Homo sapiens: one gene and its partner. The protein of the gene in region 2 binds, or shares a complex with, the protein of the main gene of each other region. Each region holds a gene or a part of one and is shown on either strand. Other genes may lie near its edges. The genes, in order: TENT4B and ZCCHC7.

Region 1 (9,862 bases), on a different chromosome or scaffold from region 2:
TGGGCTATACCAAGAGCATGAAGTGAGTACCTTTGAGAGTTCAGAGGAGAAACCAAAAACATCAAGGACTTAGGCAATGCAAGAGGTCAGCATTCTAAATAAATCAACCAATTTGGTGGAAGCAGAGAACACAAAAGACAGCTGCGAGAGACTATATAGCTGTCCCATGGTTCTAGTCCATTTTCACATGCTTTCTGGTCTCCTCTCCCCATCTGGACTATCAGTTCAGAGGCCAAGAACCACCACAATGTGTTAACCTATTAGCTAACTATCAGTCACATCTTAAGAATTCAGAAAACAATGGTAACAGTTTTAGTATATTTAATCTCAGAACAGCATAACATCGAGGTGCACTCTGAATTCAGATTTTTTTAAATACCTATATTAAAAATAGAAAAACTTTCTAAAGTTAAGAAATAAGGATACTGGCGAGAATGGTGGCTCATGCCTATAATCCCAGCACTCTGTGAGGCCAAGGTGGGAGGACTGCTTGAGGCCGGTTGAAGACCAGCCTAGGCAACAAATGGAGGCCCCATCTCTACAAAAAGTAAAAATAAAAAAATTAGGCAGGTGTGGTGACATGTGCCTGTAGTCCCAGCTACTCCAGGAAGCTAAGGCAGGAGGATCACTTGAGCCCAAGAGTTAGAGGATACAGTGAGCTATGATCACGTCACTCCACTCCAGCCTAGGCAGCAGAGTGAGACCCAGTCTCAAAAGAAAAAAAAGAAATCAGGATAATGAGGCCGGGCACGGTGGCTCATGCCTGTAATCCCAGTCCTTTGGGAGGCCAAGACGGGCAGATCACCTGAGGTCAGGAGTTCGAGACCAGCCTGACCAACATGAAGAAACCCCGTCTCTACTAAAAATAAAAAATTAGCCAGGCGTGGTGGCAAGCGCCTGTAATCCCAGCTACTCGGGAGGCTGAGGCAGCAGAATCGCTTGAACCTGGGAGGCAGAGGTTGCGGTGAGCTGAGATCGAGCCACTGCACTCCAGCCTGGGCAACAAGAGCGAAACTCCGTCTCAAAAAAAAAAAAAAAATCAGAATACATGAATCAAAGCAAGAATTTCTAAGCACCCAGACACTCTTAACACTCTTGGGAATTGTTTAATGTATTTTTTGAAACTAGGAGGTCTCAGAATTGAACTTTTTTTAATTTAAAAAAAAAATTAACTGCTGACATCCTCTAAGGGAGGAGGCAAAAGAATGGAAAATCTGGTGAAGTGATAAGCAGTTTTTAAAGAGGTTTACAACCAGTTTTTAAACAGTAATCCCTCCGGGAAATGAAAATTCCTCTCCTAATCCCTTTGAGGGCAATATATTTGAATCAGGAACAAGAACATCTTGCTTCTAAGTATAAATATGAACCTTTTAGAGTATCTTCTGCATTAAATAGCAAGTAGAGGAGAGGACAATTTCTAATTTATCAAAAAAAAAATAAGCATCTTGGACTTATATCTTTTGCTAGACACATGCAAAGAGGCTTCAGTAAAATGCAATTAAGGAACTTCAAGGTTTTCGTTGACAGTGATTACCTAACTGGAGCTTACTCCTGTGAAATGAAACTACCAGAAACCCTCAACATCAATTTGCTTGTCACTAAACCACAGGTTTACGCGTAGACTTGGAAATGCTAACAGGATGGAACCACAAGCCTTTAATAAAACGTGATGACCATGGAGAGCACCCTTGAAGCTTAGCAACAGAGGACTCAACCCTAAAAGGGTTCCCTTTCTGGAATGTGAGGGCAGGTTTGACATGTACCACAGCACCAGTCCTAGAACGCTTGACTGCATTTTCCACAAAAGGTAGGAGTTGTAATAGTAGCATAGAGCAGACACCAGCCCACTGGAAGCAGATGGAACCCACCAACTCATTTTATCCAGACCTTCAAAAAGGTACACAGAACTCTCTCTCTCAGCCAAAGCAGGGCAGATCTGAATGAATAAATCCAGGAAAAGGTTCACATGGGATTACTAATTGGTAATTTCATTTGCATGCTAAAGCCCTCAATGTAAAACACAACCTGAAAAATGAAAAGCAATTTGAAAGCCGGTTCTCCATACTCAAGCTACACACACACACACACACACACACACACACACACACACACCCACGAGACCCAAAAGCTTTGTTTTACAAAACAAATAAGATTCAGTGACCTATTCCAGCACAGGGACTCTTCTGAAGGGAGATCTAGTTGGAAACATTCCCTGCTTATGTACATAATTCACTAGGGGTCAGGTAAGATTCCATTTTCTAAGAGCTGAACTTTAAACAGAAAGTCACTAGTGGTGCAATATTCACTCATTAGCATAAATCTCTACCCCCTAGAATGAAAAGCATTGGCTGCCTCTGCCAGGATGACAACTTTACAGTGAGAAGCTGGAGCCGCGGACCATGAACTCCTGGAAAGTTCTATCAGGGCCTCAGAAGGGCTCACCACCTTCACCAGCCTAAACTTAGTGGTCACCCATCCCACGCCACCCTCTGCATAGACAGGGCATCTGTGACATGGGAATTTTTTAAAAATAAAAAGATGGGCCAAAGGGTCAAGAGCAGGCAATGCCTTACAGGGCTGACATAATTGCTGTCTGGGATTGGGGGATGGGGAGGAGCATTCTGGATGTTTCTATTCTTGGCAAGGAAAGCACCTCCGGGTCCTGCACCATCAAAAAACACTCACACACCAATGTTCTCAGGGAATGAATGATAGGCCCGTGCTAAGCGGTCTCATCTTGAGTTGTGATGATGGGGAAAAAGGTGTGGAGGGCTGGAGGCGGGGTGGTGGTCAAGGGTAGATGTGTTTAACTAAGGGGGATGGGAGGAGAGTGAATGGATAAAGGGGGGGGCCTGGGGAAGGTGTGGACGGTTAAGAGGGAGGGGAGGAAGGTGTGGACGACTAAGGGAGGACAGGAGACGGAGGGTGTGGACGGCTAAGGAGGCTTGGGGAAAGGTGTGAACGACTGGGGGGTTGGGGATGGCCAGCAGCACCCCCGTGCAACAGCAGCGAAGGCAGGCCGTGGGGGTGGCCGCTCCTAGACCCTCACAACCCCCCTCTGTGGGCGTGTGCCCGGCTGCGCATTCGCACCGGCCAGGCCATCGGGCCGCAGAGCCAGCACTCACCCCACGACTCCCTGGTTGTAGTTCCTCCGTTTCCACGGGGTCCCGCTGTACACGACCCCGCCGCCGTCTGCTCGGCCGCCCCCCGCGGCCCGCCCTCCGCTGGGCTGCAGCAGGCTGTAGTTGAGTCCATACGTGCTGGCCTTGTTGTCGCGCTTCCTCTTGTTGCTGCTGCCCGAGGCCGAATCGGCTGGATCGGCGGCGGGGACGGCGGCCGAAGGGTGCGGGGACGAGGACGCCGAGGGAGGCGAGGACGCCGAGGAGCCCGCCCGGCGGGCCCAGGCCCCGGGCTGGTGGTGGTTGTTGTTGTTGTTGGTCGTCTCTAGGGGCAGGAAGTCCCGCTGCTCCGCGGGCAGCGCGTGGCTGCCCAGCAGGCGCTCCCCGGAGCGATACATGCCGGCCGGGGCCGGGGCCGGGGCCGAGGCCGCGCCGCCGGGGCTGCCGGTGCTGCTGCCGCTCCCGCCGGTGGCCGTGCTGCTGCTGCTGCTGCTGCCGCCGCCGCCGCTCGCGCCGCCGCTGCTGTGACAGTGGTGGTTGAAGTAGAGGTTCCTCAGCCCCTGGGTCGTCTCCCAGATCTGCATCCACAGACTGTTGGACGGTCCGAGCTGCTCTGGCTGAAACCAGGCGATCCTCGGATCCATCAAACGGCGGCGGCCGCTGCCCCCGCCCCTCCCGGCCGCCCGCAGGGCCGCCGCCGCCGCCGCCTCAGGCGCACGCCCGGCCTCGGCTGCTGCTGCTGCTGCCGCTGCTGCCGCTGCTGCTGCTGCTGCTGCTCGGGGCCCGCCGCGGGCGGCGCGGTCGCGCAGGGAGCCCGGCCGGCGCCGGCGGCGTCGCTCCCGCCCTCGGGGGCTCCGCGGGCCCTCCCCCCCTCCCTCCGCCCCTCCGCCCCTCCGCCGAGCCCCTGTCACTGGGGTCCCCGTGCAAATGGCGGCGGCGGCGGCGGCGGCTCCACAGAAGAGCGAGCGGCGGCGGCGGCAGCGGCGGCAGCGAGACGCGCCTGCTCCGTAGCGTCCTCGCTCCTCCGGCCCCGGGGCGGGGCCTCTGCCGGCTCCGCCCCTCTCGCTCCGCCCCCCCCCCCCACCGCCCCGCCCTCACGCGCTCGCCCCGCCCCCGCTGCGCCGCGCAGCAGCCCGGGAGGCCTCGCCGTGCGTCACAGAGGCCGCGGCGCGACGGGGCCGCAACCGCCTGGCCCAACCGTACTTGCGCCATCTGTGGAGTGCTCCCACGTACCTGGGCGTCCGGGAGCTTCTGAGGCGCGCGCGGCTTCTCCGCCTCGGCTTCCCCGGTGCTGAGCGTGGACGAGGCCGCATGGAGGTTGCCGCCCGCCCCGCAGGGAGCGCGTTGTGGGAGGTGCCACTCCGCCCCTCGCTCCTCGCCCCTCCCATCCCTGTGGCCGCCGGATCCCGGGCCCTCGCAACCCTTCCTGACGTCTTGGCTTCTGCCTGCTTTCTAAAACACTTTCTTTTTAAAAAAAAAAAAAAAAAAAAAAACAGCCTATAACACTTTTTCTGGTGGCGTGGGGACACGCCCCCTGCCCGAGCGTGTGCCCCGGGGTCCTGACGCGGGCTGCGCGAGACCCTGCACGGCTACGTGTGCCCCGCCCTGCTGCGCCCTGGCCGGGGTGGGGGACCCCTCACCCCGGCCTGAGGCCACAGAAACCTGTACCCCATGCATAGCCCTGGGGGAGACCACTAAGACTGAGAGTGTGAGCCAAGGGCGGAAAGCCGCAGCCGCACACTCAACCCACTTTACAGGGACACGCAAACACGTGTAGATGCACAGAGAAGCAGACACACTCCTGCGCGGCGTAGCAAAGACGCTCTCCTGCCCTAAGGTGCACCAACAGCCTTAGAAAGCTCTTCTGAGTTCAGCATTAAATTTTAAGAAAACCCAAAACCTTTTAATCCTAAAATGAAGATTTAGCATCAGCAAAGATTGTCCACTAGGTCGTTATTTGCATGTCTTTCAAATCTCAGTGGTTAAAAAGCCAAGGAAAGGGGAATGTTAAGTATTTTAAATCAAGAGACTAAAAGAAAGTAAGTGAACAGCTTCTATGTGGGCCCTTTAAGGTTGGTCCAACGTCCAGAACAAGTCCCTGATGCCTGATATTGGCCTTCCATTTTGGGAGCTCAATATCCTGGAAAGTTTTTATGACAAATAGTGGAAAACTATCAAAGAACTAAGTGTCGCTCTACCTTTTTCTTTCTTTCGAGACTAACTCTTGCTCTGTCATCTGGAGTTCAGTGACTCATTCACAGCTCACTGCAGGCTCGGCCTCTTGGGTTCAAGCGATCCTCTTGCCCCAGCCTCCGAGTAGCTAGGACTATAGGCACGCGTCAACATGGCATAGAGACGAAGTTGCTCTGCGCTGCCCAGGCTGGTCTGGAACTCCTGGACTTAAGCGATCCTCCTACCTCAGACTCCAAAACTGCTGGGATTACAAGGGGGTGAGCCACCACGCCTGACCTTACTTTTTTTTTTTTTTTTGGTAAGAGAATAAATAGCACGACCAGAAATACGGAAAACACACAAAGACCCTTCAGCTGCAAACAACAGCTTCCTTGGTAGTTTATGCAGCCTGTTTCTTGTATGGGCTGCTCTAAGGGACCATGGAGACAGGCCTTTCAGATGTATGTTCATGTCTTTGACCTTGCACTACGCCAATGTAGGCTCCAGGCAGATATTCGAGGTGCCTTTGAAAAGCTCCAGGGCACTGTGGCCAGGGTTCACATTGGCCAAGTTATCATGTCCATCTGCAACAAGCTGCAGAATAAGGAGCATGTGATTGAATCCCTGCTCAGGGCCAAGTTCAAGTTCCCTGGCTGCCAGAAGATCCACATTTCAAAGAAGTGGGGCTTCACCAAGTTCACTGCGGATGAATTTGAAGACATGGTGGCTGAAAAGCGGCTCATCGCAGATGACTGTGGGGTCAAGTACATCCCCATCATGGCCCTCTGGACAAGTGGCGTGCCCTGCCCTCGTGAGGGCTTCCACTGTGCTGCCCCCTCTTAATACTCCCCAGTAAATCCTACTTCCTGTCCACCAAAAACAAACAAAAAAAACCCTTCGGAATTTTGATTCATTCAATTTGATTGTTGCTGTTGCTTTACTAGAAATCAGTATTAAAAGTTTTCTCTGTCCGGGGGCGGTTGCTCACACTTGTAATCCCAGCGTTTTGGGAAGTCAAGGCAGGCAGATCACCTGAGGTCGGGAGTTCGAGACCAGCCTGACCAACACGGAAAAACCCCATCTCTACTAAAAATACAAAATTAGCCGGGTGTGGTGGCGCATGCCTGTAATCCCAGCTACTTAGGAGGTTGAGGCAGGAGAATCACATGAACCCAGGAGGTGGAGGTTGTGGTGAGCCGAGATCTCGCCATTGCACTCCAGCCTGGGTGACAGAGCGAGACTCCATCTCAAAAAAAAAAAAAAAAAAAAGTTTTCCCTGAATGAAATTTGCTATGTACTAATTATTACATAGCCAGGAAAATAAGTAGCCGTATTTTTTGTGTTATTTACACTGACAAAAATAAAACATTGTATAGAAATAGATTTTGTTTGCTGACCTCATATTTGTTTTAAAAATTGAATCTCTGGCCGGGCGTGGTGACTCACACCTGTAATCCCAACATTTTGGGAGGCTGACGCGGGCAGATCATGAGCTCAGGAGTTCCCGAGACCAGCCTGGCCAATGTGGTGAAACCCCGTCTCTACTAAAAATACAAAAAATTAGCCGGGTGTGGTGGCACATGCCTGTAATCCCAGCTACTTGGAAGGCTGAGGCAGGAGAATCATTTGAACCTTGGAGGCAGAGGTTTTGGTGCGCCGAGATCGCGTCATTGCACTCCAGCCTAGGTGACACAGTGAGACTCTGTCTCAAAAAAAAAAAATTATATATATATATATCTATCTCTCTCTCTCTCTCAGCAGGATGCAGTGGCTCATGCCTGTAATCCCAGCACTTTGGAAGACTGAGGTGAGAGGATTACTTGAAGCCAGGAGTTTGAGAACAGCCTAGGCAACATGGTGAGACCTCTGTCTCTACAAAAAATTTAAAAATGAGCTGGGCCTTTTCCTTTAACGTAGGATCAAGGTAATAAAAAAGAAAAAAATATTCAACATGAAATTTGGAGGAGACAGATATCCAAACTATTATCAGATGCTAATTCATCAGTTACACCATAGTAATATCCTAAGTATGTTAAGTAAAAGGCTTTCTTCAGCAAAGTATCAGAGATACATTTGATTTACATACTTTTGTAAACTCTGTCTTCTCAGGATGCTGGGTACTTAAGATCCATGCTTTCAGGCCAAGTGTGGTGGCTCACGCCTGTAATCCCAGCAATTCGGGAGGCTGAGGCAGGCAGATCGCTTGAGGTCAGTAGTTTGAGACCAGCCTGGCCAACATGGTGAAACTCCATCTCTACTTAAAAAAAGAAATTAGCCGGGCATGGTGGCCCACATCTCTAAGGCCAGTTACTCAGGAGGCTGAGGTGGGAGAATCACTTGAACTTGGGAGGCAGAGGTTACAGTGAGCCGAGATCGTGCCACTGCACTCCAGCCTGGGCGACAGAGCTAGACTCCGTCTCAATAAATAAATAAATAAATAAATAAAATTAGCTGTGCTTGGTGGCGAGTGCCTGTGGTCCCAACTACTCGGGAGGCTGAGGTGGGAGTATGGCTTGAGCACAGGAGGTCGAGGCTACAGTGAGCCATGTTTGTGACACTGCACTCCAGCCTGAGTGAGATCCTGTCTTAAAAATAAAAATAAAAATGACCAGGCGCAGTGGCTCATGCCTGTAATCCCAGTACTTTGGGAGGCTGAGGCAGGAAGATCACTTGAGCCCAGAAGTTCAAGACCAGCCTGGGCAACACAGCGAGATTTTTGTCTCAAAAGAGAAGAAAAGGAAATAAAACTAAAAAATTTAAATATATTTTCTTAAACCCTGCTTGAAAAAAAAAAATTCAGGAGAGGCATGGTGGATTACACCTATAATCCCAGTGCTTTGGGAGGTTTAGGCCGGAAGGTGGCTTGAGGCTTGGAGTTTGAGACCAGTCTGGGCAATATAGCAAGACCCTGCCTGTAAAAATAATAATAATAATAGTAATAATAATAAAATTTTTAAATTCAATCTCAAGACATAAGGTCAGGAAAACATTTTTCTTTTTAATTCAAATAAGAACAATGGAAAGCCCAAAACACTAAACATTATTGGCTGGGCGCGGTGGCTCACACCTGTAATCCCAGCACTTTGGGAGGCTGAGGTAGGAGGATCACTTGAGGTCAGGAGTTTGAGACCAGCCTGACCAACATGGTGAAACCCCATCTCTACTAAAAATACAAAAAATGTAGCCGGGGTGGTGGCGCACACAAGTAGTCCCAGCTACTCTGGAGGCTGAGGTGGAAGGATCACTTGAACCCGGGAGGCAGAGGTTGCAGTCAGCTGAGATTGCACCACTATACTCCAGCCTGGGTGACACAGCGAGACTCCATCAAAAAAAAAAAAAAACAGATGTTATCAAGGTCCCACCAACAGAAATGCCCACTGTGAAAATTGTTAAACATTCATCCAAAAATCTCTCCATGCATATGTACATGTTGAAATACAGGTATATATTCCAGTCTCTTAAAATATTTCTTTAGGACCAGGCACGGTGGCTCACACCTGTAATCCCAGCACTTTGGAAGGCAGAGGCAGATGGATCACTTGAGGTCAGGAGTTTGAAAGCAGCCTGGACAACATGGTGAAACCCCATCTCTACTAAAAACACAAAAATTAGCTGGGCCTCATAGGCGCACACCTGTAATCCCAGCTACTTGGGAGGCTGAGGCAGGAGAATCACTTGAACCTAGGAGGCAGAGGTTGCAGTGAGCCGACATTGCACCACTGTACTGTAGCCTGGGTGACAGAATGAAACCCTGTCTCAAAAAAATAAATAAAATAAAATATTTATTCAGACATTCTAGAACACATTAAATGCCATTGATATCTAAGTTTTTTCAAGGTACTCAAAATTAGTAATAGCATGTGCAAGAAATTAACATTTGTTATATTTGAGTGCTGATTTCCTCAGGCAAAGGTTAAGAACTACTAAAGTATTGGCAAAATGCTAAAAATTAGTTAACATACATAAAAATACATTGTAGGCCGGGTGCAGTGGCTCAAGCCTATAATCCCAGCACTTCTGGAGGCCAAAGTGGGCAGATTGCTTCAGCTCAGGAGTTTGAGACCAGCTTGGGCAACATGACAAGACCCCACCTCTATAGAAAAAAATATAAAAATCACTTTGTGGTGCCGGGCACGGTGGCTCATGCCTGTAATCCCAGCATTTTGGGAGGCCGAGATGGGTGGATCATCTGAGGTTGGGAGTTGGAGACCAGCCTGACCAACATGGAGAAACCCCGTCTCTACTAAAAATACAAAATTAGCTGGGCATGGTGGTGCATGCCTGTAATCCCAGCTACTCAGGGGGCTGAGGCAGGAGAATTGCTTGAACTTGGTAGGCGGAGGTTGCAGTGAGCCGAGATCGTGCCATTGCACTCCAGCCTGGGCAACAAGAGGGAAACTCTGTCTGAAAACAAACAAAGAGACAAACAAACAAAAAACCTTTATGACCAGGCGCAGTGGTTCATGCCTGTAATCCCAGCACTTTGGGAGGCCGAGGTGAGCAGATCACTTGAGGTCAGGAGTTCAAGACCAGCCTGGTGAACATGGTGAAACCCCATCTCTACCAAAAGT
Region 2 (10,681 bases):
TCAAGTGATCCTCCCACCTCAGCCTCCCGAGTAGCTGGGACTACTGATGCATATCACCATTCCCAGCTAATTTTTGTATTTTTGTTGAGACAGGGTTTCGCCATGTTACCCAGGCTGGTCTGGAACTTCTGGGCTCAAGAAGTCTGCCTTCCTTAGCCTACCAAAGTGCTAGGATTACAGGTGTGAGCCACTGTGCCAGGCCAAAAGTGGCATTTTTTTTAATAGTATAAGTATGTCCTTGTTTAGATCGTTCCCTACTAATGAATATTTGTTTCCATTTTTTTCTATCACAATGTTTGTACATACATTTAAGAACATACCTCATAATAGCGATAGATGCTATTAAATAGCTCTCCTAACACACTTTTCCAGTTTGTATTCTCATCTACTGTGCATGAGATAATTTGCATTTTTCTGACTGTTAGTGATGCAGAGCACCTATTCACGGCCTTTGGGTTTCTTGTTCTGTGAATTGCCTGTTAGTGGTCTTTGCTGTGAGAATGCTGAATTGTCCGTCTTTGTCTGACTACTTATTTCTCCAGGCCTCACTCAATTCTGTTCCTCTGCAGAGGCTTCCCCATGTCCCCTAATCAGCCACCACCCCCTCCTCTGCTGTCCCATAACACTGTTCACACCATGCCCAGGCCTTCATTTACCAACCATTCCATACAAAATCTACTCATTCCAAAAGTGTCCACTGTGAGCCTTCTCTGTGCTTGGCCTTGGGCTAGGTGCTGGGTGGAGAGACATGAGCCAGTCATCATAGACTCCATGCTAAAGTTCAATTTTGAAATGCAGCTTTGAGCATAGAAAAGAGCATGAGTTTTAGATCTAGACATAACTTGAGTTGAATTCCAGCTTCACCACTTCCCAGCTGTGTAATTCAGAGCAAGTCACTTGATTACTCCAAGTCTCCATTTCCATACTAGTGAGGTGAGGCTAATCCCTCCCTAAGAGAGTCACTTGAAGCTGGGCAAGAGACAATAATATCTGAAATGGCTAAAAAGGGCCTGTTACACAGTAGGCTTGCAGTGGATGAATGGTAGTTGAAAGGCAACTGTTAAGAGGTCAAAATCAGTTAGTTCTCAGAGGTTCTAAGAGCCACCAATAAACTGGAAAATAAAAAGGAAGGAAGTAGCTCCTCTCTTTGCAATGCAAAGGATATGGATGAGTGCCACTTGCCCAGATCCTGCTGCAGAATATCCTTTATCTTTCCTGCTCTCTGCAGCAGATTTCTGCTTTGTCTTGGCCCCTCATCCCAATTCAGCTGTGCACTGTTGATGTCCTACTGCCACTTTCGTGGGAAGAACAGGTGCTTCCCTTCTCAAATAAATGTTGGTCTAGGCAGGGCGTGGTGGCTCACGCCCGTAATGCCAGCACTTTGGGAGGCAGAGGCGGGTGGATCACGAGGTCAGGAGATCGAGACCATCCTGGCTAACACAGTGAAACCCTGTCTCTACTAAAAATACAAAAAAATAAGCTGGGCGTTGTGGCGGGTGCCTGTAGTCCTAGCTACTCAGGAGGCTGAGGCAGGAGAATGGCGTGAACCCGGGAGGCGGAGGAGTTTGCAGTGAGCCGAGATCGCGCCACTGCTCTCCAGCCTGGGTGATAGAGTGAGACTCCATCTCAAATAAATAAATAAATAAATAAATAAATAAATAAATAAAATAAACGTTGGTCTCTTTAGAAGATACTCTGTAAGAAAGACTTCAGGATATTTGTGCATGCTGTCACCCATGATTTCAAGAAGTAGGGGCTGAGCACTGTGGTTCACACTGAGGCGGGAGGACTGCTTGAGACAGTTCAAGACCAGCCTGGTCAACATGGCGAGATCCCATCTCTACAAAATGTATATAGTTTTAAATTAGCCAGGTGCAGTGTGGTGATGCACGCCTGTAGTCCCAGCTTCTTGGGAGGCTCAGGTGGGAGGATCTCTTGAGCCCAGGAGGTTGAGGCTCCAGTGAGCTGTGTTTACACCACTGCACTCCAGCCTGAGTGACAGAGTGAGACCCTGCGTCAAAAAAAAAATAAAATAAAATAAAAAGGAGAAATGGGGAGTAGAGACAGCTTCAATTAGAAAGAGAAATGCTGTGTATGTGGAGAGAGGCTAAGGTGGAAAGTTTCCCTGAAGACCCAAAACTTCAGCAGAGTAGGGTGAGTGGGTATATGTTAGAAGGACAGGGAGAAGGGCTTTACAGGCAGTGGAGTGTTCTCTGCAAAGGCACAGGTGTGGGAGGGCATGGTGTGTTCTGGCAACTGCCCAGGATTCAGCGTCAACAGTAGGCAGATGTCAGCTCATGAAGTGCCTTTTATGCCATCCAAAGGACTCTAGGTTTGAAGACATAAACTAAAGGGGTAGGCTGAAGCATTCTGAGCATGGGAAAGCAGTAAATCTTTGTTGAATGCATGTGTGACAGTGGGAAGATGGGACATGGTAATTAGGAGTACAGTCGTGTCATTTAATGATGGGGATAAGTTTTGAGAAGTGCATTGTTAGGTGATTTTTTCATTGTGCAAACTTCATCGAGCATATTTACACAAACCTAGATGGTATAGTCAAGTAAACACCTAGGCCACATGATGTAGCCTATTGCTCCCAGATTACAAACTGCTACATGTTACTGTACTGAATACTGTAGGTGACTATAACACAATAAGTATTTGTGCATCTAAACATGGAAGAGGTACAGTAAAAATATGATAAAATAATCATCATATATGCAGTCTGGTTTTGAGTGGAATGTCATTATGAAGCACATAACTATTATTTCCTATACTTGTGGCCTTCTATAAGTTTTACTTAGCCTTTCTACGCCTCTTTTCTTTTTTTGTGTGTGTGAAATTGGAACTTAAAACATCAACTTGAAAGTATTGGTGGGGCTGAGTGTCTCATGCCTGTAATCCTAGGACTTTGGGAGGCTGAGGTGGGGGGATCACTTGAGGCCTGGAGCCCAGAAGCTGGAGACCAGCCTGGGCAATACGGGGAGACCCTATCTCTACAAAAAAGTTTTAAAAATTAAAAAAATAATTAACTCAGCATGGTGGTGTGTGCCTTTAGTCCCAGCTACTTGGGAGGTTAATGCGGGAGCATCATTTGGGAGATAGGTTTCAGTGAGCTGTGATTACACCACTGCACTCCAGCCTGGGTGACAGAGCAAGACCCTTTCTCAAAAAAAAAAAAAAAATCCACAAAGTGTTGTCGAAATTTAAAATATTATAATAGATGGACAGGAGTAATCCTGGCAATATATTTTTAAATTTTTAAAAAGGTGACATTTGTTTTACACAATACATATTACCAAAACAAACAATCTAGTCATCTGTGATGTGCTTCTATGCCTGTTTTCTTTTCTGGAAAGTGGTTCTCCAATTTTACCTTTTCATAGTACCTTGTCCTTCTCCTTCCCAGCACTTACCCCATAATGTTAATTAAATGTTCTAATTCTTTTCTGGCCAAACTCCTAGACTATAACTGTTTTCCTAGCTAGATGCCTATCTCTATGAGATCAGTGACTTAAAAATTTACAGCTTTTCTGCACTTTCTAACACCGTCTTTTAACAGATAGATGTTCAATAAACGTTGGTGAAAACAATCAAACTCACACTTGTCTTGAGGAGAATTGAAATAGGCCAATGAATTGGCAGTGTGTCATTATGAGAGGAGAAAAATAGTTCAGAGCAGTCTAAGTTACGTTAAAGGTATGCAAAAATAATTTTTTTAAAAATTAAAGATATGGGGTCTCTCATCCAGGCTGGAGTGCAGTGGTGTGATCACAGCTCACTATGACCTTGAACTCTCAGGCTCAAGCAATCTTCTCACCTTGGCCTCCTTAGTAGCTAGGAATACAGTTGTGTGCCACCACGCCTGGCTAATTTTTACTATTTAAAATTTCTTATTTATTTTTATTTTTATAAAAAGATTTGTTTTTTTAAATTTATTTTTATATAATTTTTTAATTAAGAAAAGGATCTTATTTTAAATATAGATGGGGTCTTCTTATGTTGCCCAGGCTGGTCTCCAACTCCTGAGCTCAAGCGATCCACCTGCCTCAACCTCCCAAAGTGCTGGGATTACAGCCATGAGGCACCTTGCTTGAGCTTTAAACATTTTTGTTCAGACGGTCTCATTCTGGAGTGCAATGGTGCGATCTCGGCTCACTGCAGCCTAGACCTCCGCAGTTCAAACCTCAGCCAGGAACAGCTGGGACTCCAGGTGTGGGCCACCACGCCCTGTTATTATTATTATTTTTTTGACACGGAGTTTCTCTCTTGCTGCCCAGGGTGGAGTGCAATGGCGCAATCTCGGCTCACTGCAACCTCCGCCTGCCGGGTTAAAGCGATTCTCCTGCCTTAACCTCAGGAGTGGCTAGGATTACAGGCATGCGCCATCACGCCCGGCTAATTTTGTATTTTTACTAGAGACGGGGTTTCGCCATGTTGGTCAGGCTGGTCTCCAACTCCTGACCTCAGGTGATCCGCCCGCCTCGGCCTCCCAAAGTGCTGGGATTACAGGCGTGAGCCACTGCGCCCAGTCGCCCAGTTAATTTTTAAATTTTTAAATTTTTTTGTAGAGACAGCGTCTTGCTATATTACCCCGGCTGGTTTCGAATTCTCGGCCTTAAGCTATCCTCCCACTTCGGGCTCCCAAACAGGTGAGAGCTACCCCATTAGCCAGGCAGGCATTCAAACTTTATCAGGCCCAGAGGGACTTGAGTATGGTACTTCAGTTAGCACCATCCCATGTAGGTGGTGGTGGGGGTGGGGGTGGGGGGTAGGGGTGTGTGGCAATTGTTTAAAGGCATTTTGTTCTTTTCTTCCCAGTACCTGCATCACCCTTTATCTTCGTGTTCCTAAAATTTGTGATAGAAAGAACAATGTGTAGCCAATGGATAGCTTATGTTATTTTAGTGTCAATTCTTGGTATGTAGTTTAGCAAAAGCCTCTTCTTTTTTCCTTTAAAAATTCACTCGTGGCCGGGCGCGGTGGCTCACGCCTCTAATCCCAGCACTTTGGCAGGTCGAGGCCAGGAGTTCGAGACCAGCCTGGCCAACATGGTGAAACCCCGACTCTACTAAAAATACAAAAATTAGCTGGGCGTGGTGGCAGGCGCCTGTAATCCCAGCTACTTCGGAGGCTGAGGCAGGAGGATGGCTTGAATCTGGGAGGCGGAGGTTGCAGTGAGCCGAGACCGCGCCATTGCACTCCAGCCTGGGCAACAACTGCGAAACTCCGTCTCAGGAAAAAAAAAAAAAAAAAAAAAAAAAAAACCATAAAGAAAGAAAAAAATTCACTCGTAGCTGCTACAAGAAGTGTAATGGCTCATGCCTGTGATCCCAGTGCTTTGGGAGACAGAGGTGGGAGGATCGATACCTTTAAGCCTGGAGCTTCACAAGACAAAGAACTCAGTTGAAACTGCTGCTTATCGGATCACATATTAAGGGCAACTTGAATTGATGATCCCAGGTTGCCCTCATCAAACTTGGCCCAAATAAATTCTCCACTTATATTAACTTTGCCTCAGTTTTTCCTTTAGGTCGACAGTTATTTCTAAAGTTCTACAGATGGGTTTACCTTGTATTAAAATAAGGTGTGAGAAGGGCAAATGAAGCCAGAGGCTCCCAGCACAATCTTGCAACCTTCAGAGACTTCCAAAGGATCAGCATTAACTCCAATATTTAGCAGGAGTGCAGCTCTTCGAGATTCACAAAGTGTTAATCTGTTGCCTAGAATTCCAGAGAGTTGGAGGCGCCCAGTGTGAACTGTGTTCCGCCTAAAAGAAAAAGCGACCAGCCTAAGATCATGAGCGCAAGGGAGAAGCTTGAAGCCATGCGCTCTCAAGTACGCGTTTCCCGCTGCCCAGGTCTGCGGGCCAAGCAGCCAGCCACGCTGGCCCTCGTCATGCACGCGATCAGCTAGGCTCCCGCGCCACGTGGCACTGAGAAGGCGTCCACCGAGCGCCAGGGAGAAGGAGGCGGAGCCCGGCCTCAACCTCGCCCGTGTCCTCATGGGGGTTGTAGTTTTCCTCGCGGGGGTAGAGGGCACGAACTCCCCGGCTTTTGCCCGGTAAATAGCATCTCCTTCGTACGAGTCATTCAAATAATAGATGCAGCCTAGGTAGCTTCAAGAGAAGTTGGGAAGGGGAAGGGGGAAAGCAAGGAAGGCAAACCTAATAATTATGGGCGGGGCAGAGAACGGTTCGCACCCACTACGCATGCGCACATCAGGCGCGGCAGGTGGGCGGGGACGGAAAGGCGGTGACTAGAGCTGTGTTGTCCCCGGAAGTGCCTTCCCTCCCGGGTCTGCGCGGACGCGGCCTCCTTACCTCATTTGTCCTCGCCCCTCCCCGTCCCTCTACGCGTTTTGGTTCCCGGTTGGTGCTTCCTGTTCGCAGCTGCGGCAGTGAGTATGTGTGTGACGGACCCCCGCCGCCCGCGGCTCGGGACCCCTGCCTACCCTCCTTCTTGCCCGCCGGGCTGTGGAACTAGCGCGTGCCCCCTCGCCGGCCTCGACGTCTCCCGTCCGCCCCTCACTCGTGGCAGGGCGCAGCTCCTGGTCCGTCACCTGCGCGCCGCCCCACGCGGCCGGGCTGCGGGTCTAGGGGGTCCGCGTCTCCCTGGCTTTCCAAGGGCTAATGCCGTGATTCTAGAGCGGCTGGGCGTCTAGGGCCTCGGTGAGGGTGGCGTGTCTGCCCTTTTTATTTCCCCGCAAGGCCCCCAGTCTTCTAGGGAAGCCAGTCAGTGAAGCGCGGAGGTCCCGGCGCGCCGAGAGAGAGTCCAGTCTTTGAGGACCGAGTAGTCCTGGGCCACCTCCCGCCTCTGCTGTCAGAAGCAGCAGCTGCAGCAGTAGAATCCAAAATTTCGGGAGCTGTGACCCTTTCCTCATGTAAAACGAGTAGACTTGGACTGTGTTTACTAAGGCGCCCTTTATCCCTCCCATCCTGTGAGCGGACAGTTGCCTTCAACTTTTGGGAAGAGCTGCTGGTTCGGTGGAAAAGCTGTGGCTGGGAATCAGGAGGCCTGGGTTCTAGCCGTGGCTCCCCCACGGATTCGCTGGCGATTCCAGAAAGCTCTTATTGAAGCTGAATTTAAGATTATTTCAGATTGCACAGTTGAATTACGGGCTGCATTAGTAGGGCCTTTTTAGCTCAGTGAATAAGTTTCTCTGAGCTCCTTTCTCCAACTATAAAACGAGAGCGTTCAATTTGATGACTTTTCAGGTCCCCTCAGAAGCTCTTGACTTTGTGGTTTTCTTTTTCTTTTTAAAATTTTTTCTAGGACCGTTAGAGAAATGACTTCGTGTTTGAATAGTTAGGCTGTCGCATACAAAGACTTTTAAATGGATTGTGTGTATACTTAGGAAAGCGTTATGCTTTCAGGAGAATCTGAGCATGGGGAATAAAGTCAGGAAGGATCGCAAGTGAGGATTATATTAATATGATAATTAGCACGGTAAGAGACTGCATGACCGAAGGAAAAGGGCTAAGGGAAAGGTGAAGGAAATGTTTCCGGATAGGATTAGTTCTCGTAAAAATCATATATATATCCCAAGAAGAGCTGGGACTTAAGTGACTAAATTTAGCTTATTTTTTTTCCCCCACTGAAATACTGTGCTCTGTTTGTCTTTTGTGACTTTTGTTTTACACATTTGGATTCTCCATCCCAATCAGATTTGATTCAGAGTGGCCATCGCATTTGAAAAATGGACAGACATTTTAACCCTTTAGACAATTGTGTTTCAACTGTCCTGTCAGGGCAGCTTACTAAGAGTAAGAAAAATTTTACTTTGAAAGTAAAGTGTATTCATCACATTCCAATGAAAATTGGACTGAAAATGAGGCTGTGGATTTGATTTAAATCGGCCGGAGATGGATGCGTGTGTCATCAAGAAGGAACATCTAGGGAGGCTAAAGATATTTGGAAGTAAATAAGAGCAAAAGGTCAGAATGACCAGTAGGTAGACTGTGAGAGCAGAAGGATTGATTAAAGACTGTGTTAAGTAAATGCTGAAAGCTTAAATAAGCCTTAAGTTGTCTAGTTTAAAACAATTCAGTCAATGAATACTGCTCCCTCTTTTGAATGGTAATAGCCTTTGCAGTTATTCTATAGCTGTTTTATATTTGTTAAGGTATTTTAATTCTTAGATAAGTTTCATTTGCATGATATTTTAAGATGTTATATAGGAAACATCTTTTCTGGTCATGGGATTGATAGTTTTTGAGTACCAACTTGGGAGATTCTTAAATGGCAAACTGACAAACGTGTGTTTTCCTTACACCTAAAATGTCTCATTTAGTTTTTAAACTCTGCTGGGACATAAAATGGATATTTGTGAGGTAAATTTAGGTGTTAGAACCAATGCAAATATTGCAATGAAGGAAGGTTTTTCTTCAAAAAATCTTAATTTGAAGTTAACTTATTTGAAAATTTTATTTTGGGCCATGTGCGGTGGCTCACGCCTGTAATCCAGGCACTTTGGGAGTCCGAGTGGGGCGGATCACGAGGTCAGGAGTTCGAGACCAGCCTGGCCAACATGGTGAAACCCGTCTCTGCTAAGAATACAAAAATTACCCAGGCGTGGTGGCGCGTGCCTGTAATCCCAGCTACTTGGGAGGCGGAGGCAGGAGAATTTCTTGAACCCAGGAGGAGGAGGTTGCAGTGAGCCGAGATTGCGCCACTGCACTCTCACCTGGGGGACAGAACGAGACTCCGTCTCAAGGGGGAAAAAAAGAAATTTGTTTAAAAATTTTAGTAAACAGTTGGCTGAGAATCACAGAAATGTGAATCACTTCTAGCCGTGTTCTTAACCAGCTGCATAACCTTGAATAGGCTTCCTATCTCTTTGTATTTCAGTTTCCTGATGGGAAGATTGAGGAGTCTGTATGAGATAATCTGATTTTGTTACCTAGTTAGTATACTTGGGAATCATGTACAGGGATAAAAAAGCTGAGAAAGCCTTCTGAGTCAAGGGTGTGTGTGTGTGTGTGTGTGTGTGTGTGTGTGTGCGTGTGCGTGTGTGTGTAAAAAACATATATTGTCTTCCAAGACACTTTTTAAAAGGGTAAATTAAATTCATTTGAACGTAATTAAAGCAGTAACATTAACGAAAACAACCTTAGGCAGACCTTAACCCTGGCATACATAAACTACCTAAATAAGAGAGCACGTTATGCCCAGCACAATTTTCAAGTACAGACGGTACAAAATCCTCTTAAAGGCCATAGGGGCTAAATTGTTAAATTCATTTTTCTACATTTCAGGGAAAGAGATAAATCCTTTGACCCAAGGAAGTCAGTTTTTATTATGGTTCTGTAGTTTATTTTTGGCATACATTCACAGGTGTGCCTATGGCTCTATTCTTAATCCCTTTCCTTTGGGATGGCTGCAAGAGTAGTACAAACTTGTAACTTTGTAATTTGGCTTTTTAATTTTTTCTGTGCTGCACTGGAATTATGTTTTGTCTTAAGTCCACACTGGATCCTCAGGATGGATCCAGTGAGGATTTTGAAAGAAGCATAATTCCTTTGACTTCTTTTAGAATTAATTTACCTATTAAATAAAAAGGAAAGGATTCATCTTTTATTCGAATTCCTCTGAGGCTAACAATTCAATATAAACTGATGAATGCTGTGAGCATTATTCAGACAATCACATTCAATTTGTGTGACAGTAACAGCATAGCCACCTGAAGGACAGTGCAACAAGGGCACAGGTATATGATACCCTTTAGAAGAAAAGCATTACAGGTGGGTTTATTTGTTTCTGGAAAACAAACAACTCCAGTAGGAATGTAGTACATTTTTGGCTCTTGTCCATTTGGTTTTTGGGATTAAGGTGGTTCTATTACCAGAACTACCACCACAACACCCTGGTATTTTTGGGCAGAAATTTGGGACACTAAGAAAACAACTATTTTTTATTTTATGTGTATAGCTGTTAGTGGAAGAAAGAATAAATAGGCATCATTATTGCTCTTTAGGCTGTCCCTGATTTTGGACACACACTTATTTTTTCAGGGCTCTCATTTTAATCAGTAGTCCATCAGTACCTAATGGAAACATCTACTGTGTAGAGTTTTGGTTGCTGATGCTAGAATTTAAGACTTTGGAGTAGTCGAAAGACAACAGAGAAATTCATCTCATAATTTTTGTATTTTAAGCACATACTAGATTTATCAGGGCTGAAGAACAAATGCCCGATGGTGTAGTTCATTTATTCATTTATGAATTCAGCAAACGTTTGTAGCTGACCCCGAAAATACCAGTTACCCTGTTTGGCTTTGGTGATTCATTGTTTAGCAGAGTGCATATAGTTCCTGCCCTCCTGGGATTTGTGATCTGCGTTTCTTGGAAATTTATATTGAATAAGTAATTATAAATGTGATGAGTGTTTTGACATGTAAAGTACTTATGGAAGCCCATAAAAGGGGCTCTTAATTTAGCCTGGTTGCAAGTGATTTTGAGCTGAGTTTAAAAGATGAAGGCTGAGGAGGATTTAATATGCTCACAGTAGAAAGTAAAGTGTTTCACTTTACACATTTATTCCCAAAGCTGGGAGTTTTGTCTCAATATTGGGTCATTATTAAGTTTGTATTTATACATTATAAATATACATTGTAAAAATATACATTTTTGTAACTAGTACAGAGTTTTTAGACAGTCTGCTCTGTTGCCCAGGGTGAAGTG

What was found.
Region 1: ZCCHC7 (region 2) and TENT4B share a complex: the UniProt entries of both Homo sapiens proteins name them as parts of the nucleolar TRAMP-like complex.

Annotation. Positions count from the first base shown.
Region 1 is NC_000016.10:50,147,523-50,157,384, reverse strand, and holds the start of TENT4B (terminal nucleotidyltransferase 4B), read right to left. Parts: upstream 4,080-9,862; 5' UTR 3,764-4,079; coding exon 3,126-3,763; intron 1-3,125. UniProt on the Homo sapiens protein: Terminal nucleotidyltransferase that catalyzes preferentially the transfer of ATP and GTP on RNA 3' poly(A) tail creating a heterogeneous 3' poly(A) tail leading to mRNAs stabilization by protecting mRNAs from active deadenylation.
Region 2 is NC_000009.12:37,114,225-37,124,905, forward strand, and holds the start of ZCCHC7 (zinc finger CCHC domain-containing protein 7), read left to right. Parts: upstream 1-6,349; 5' UTR 6,350-6,399; exon of another isoform or gene 6,400-7,448; intron 7,449-10,681.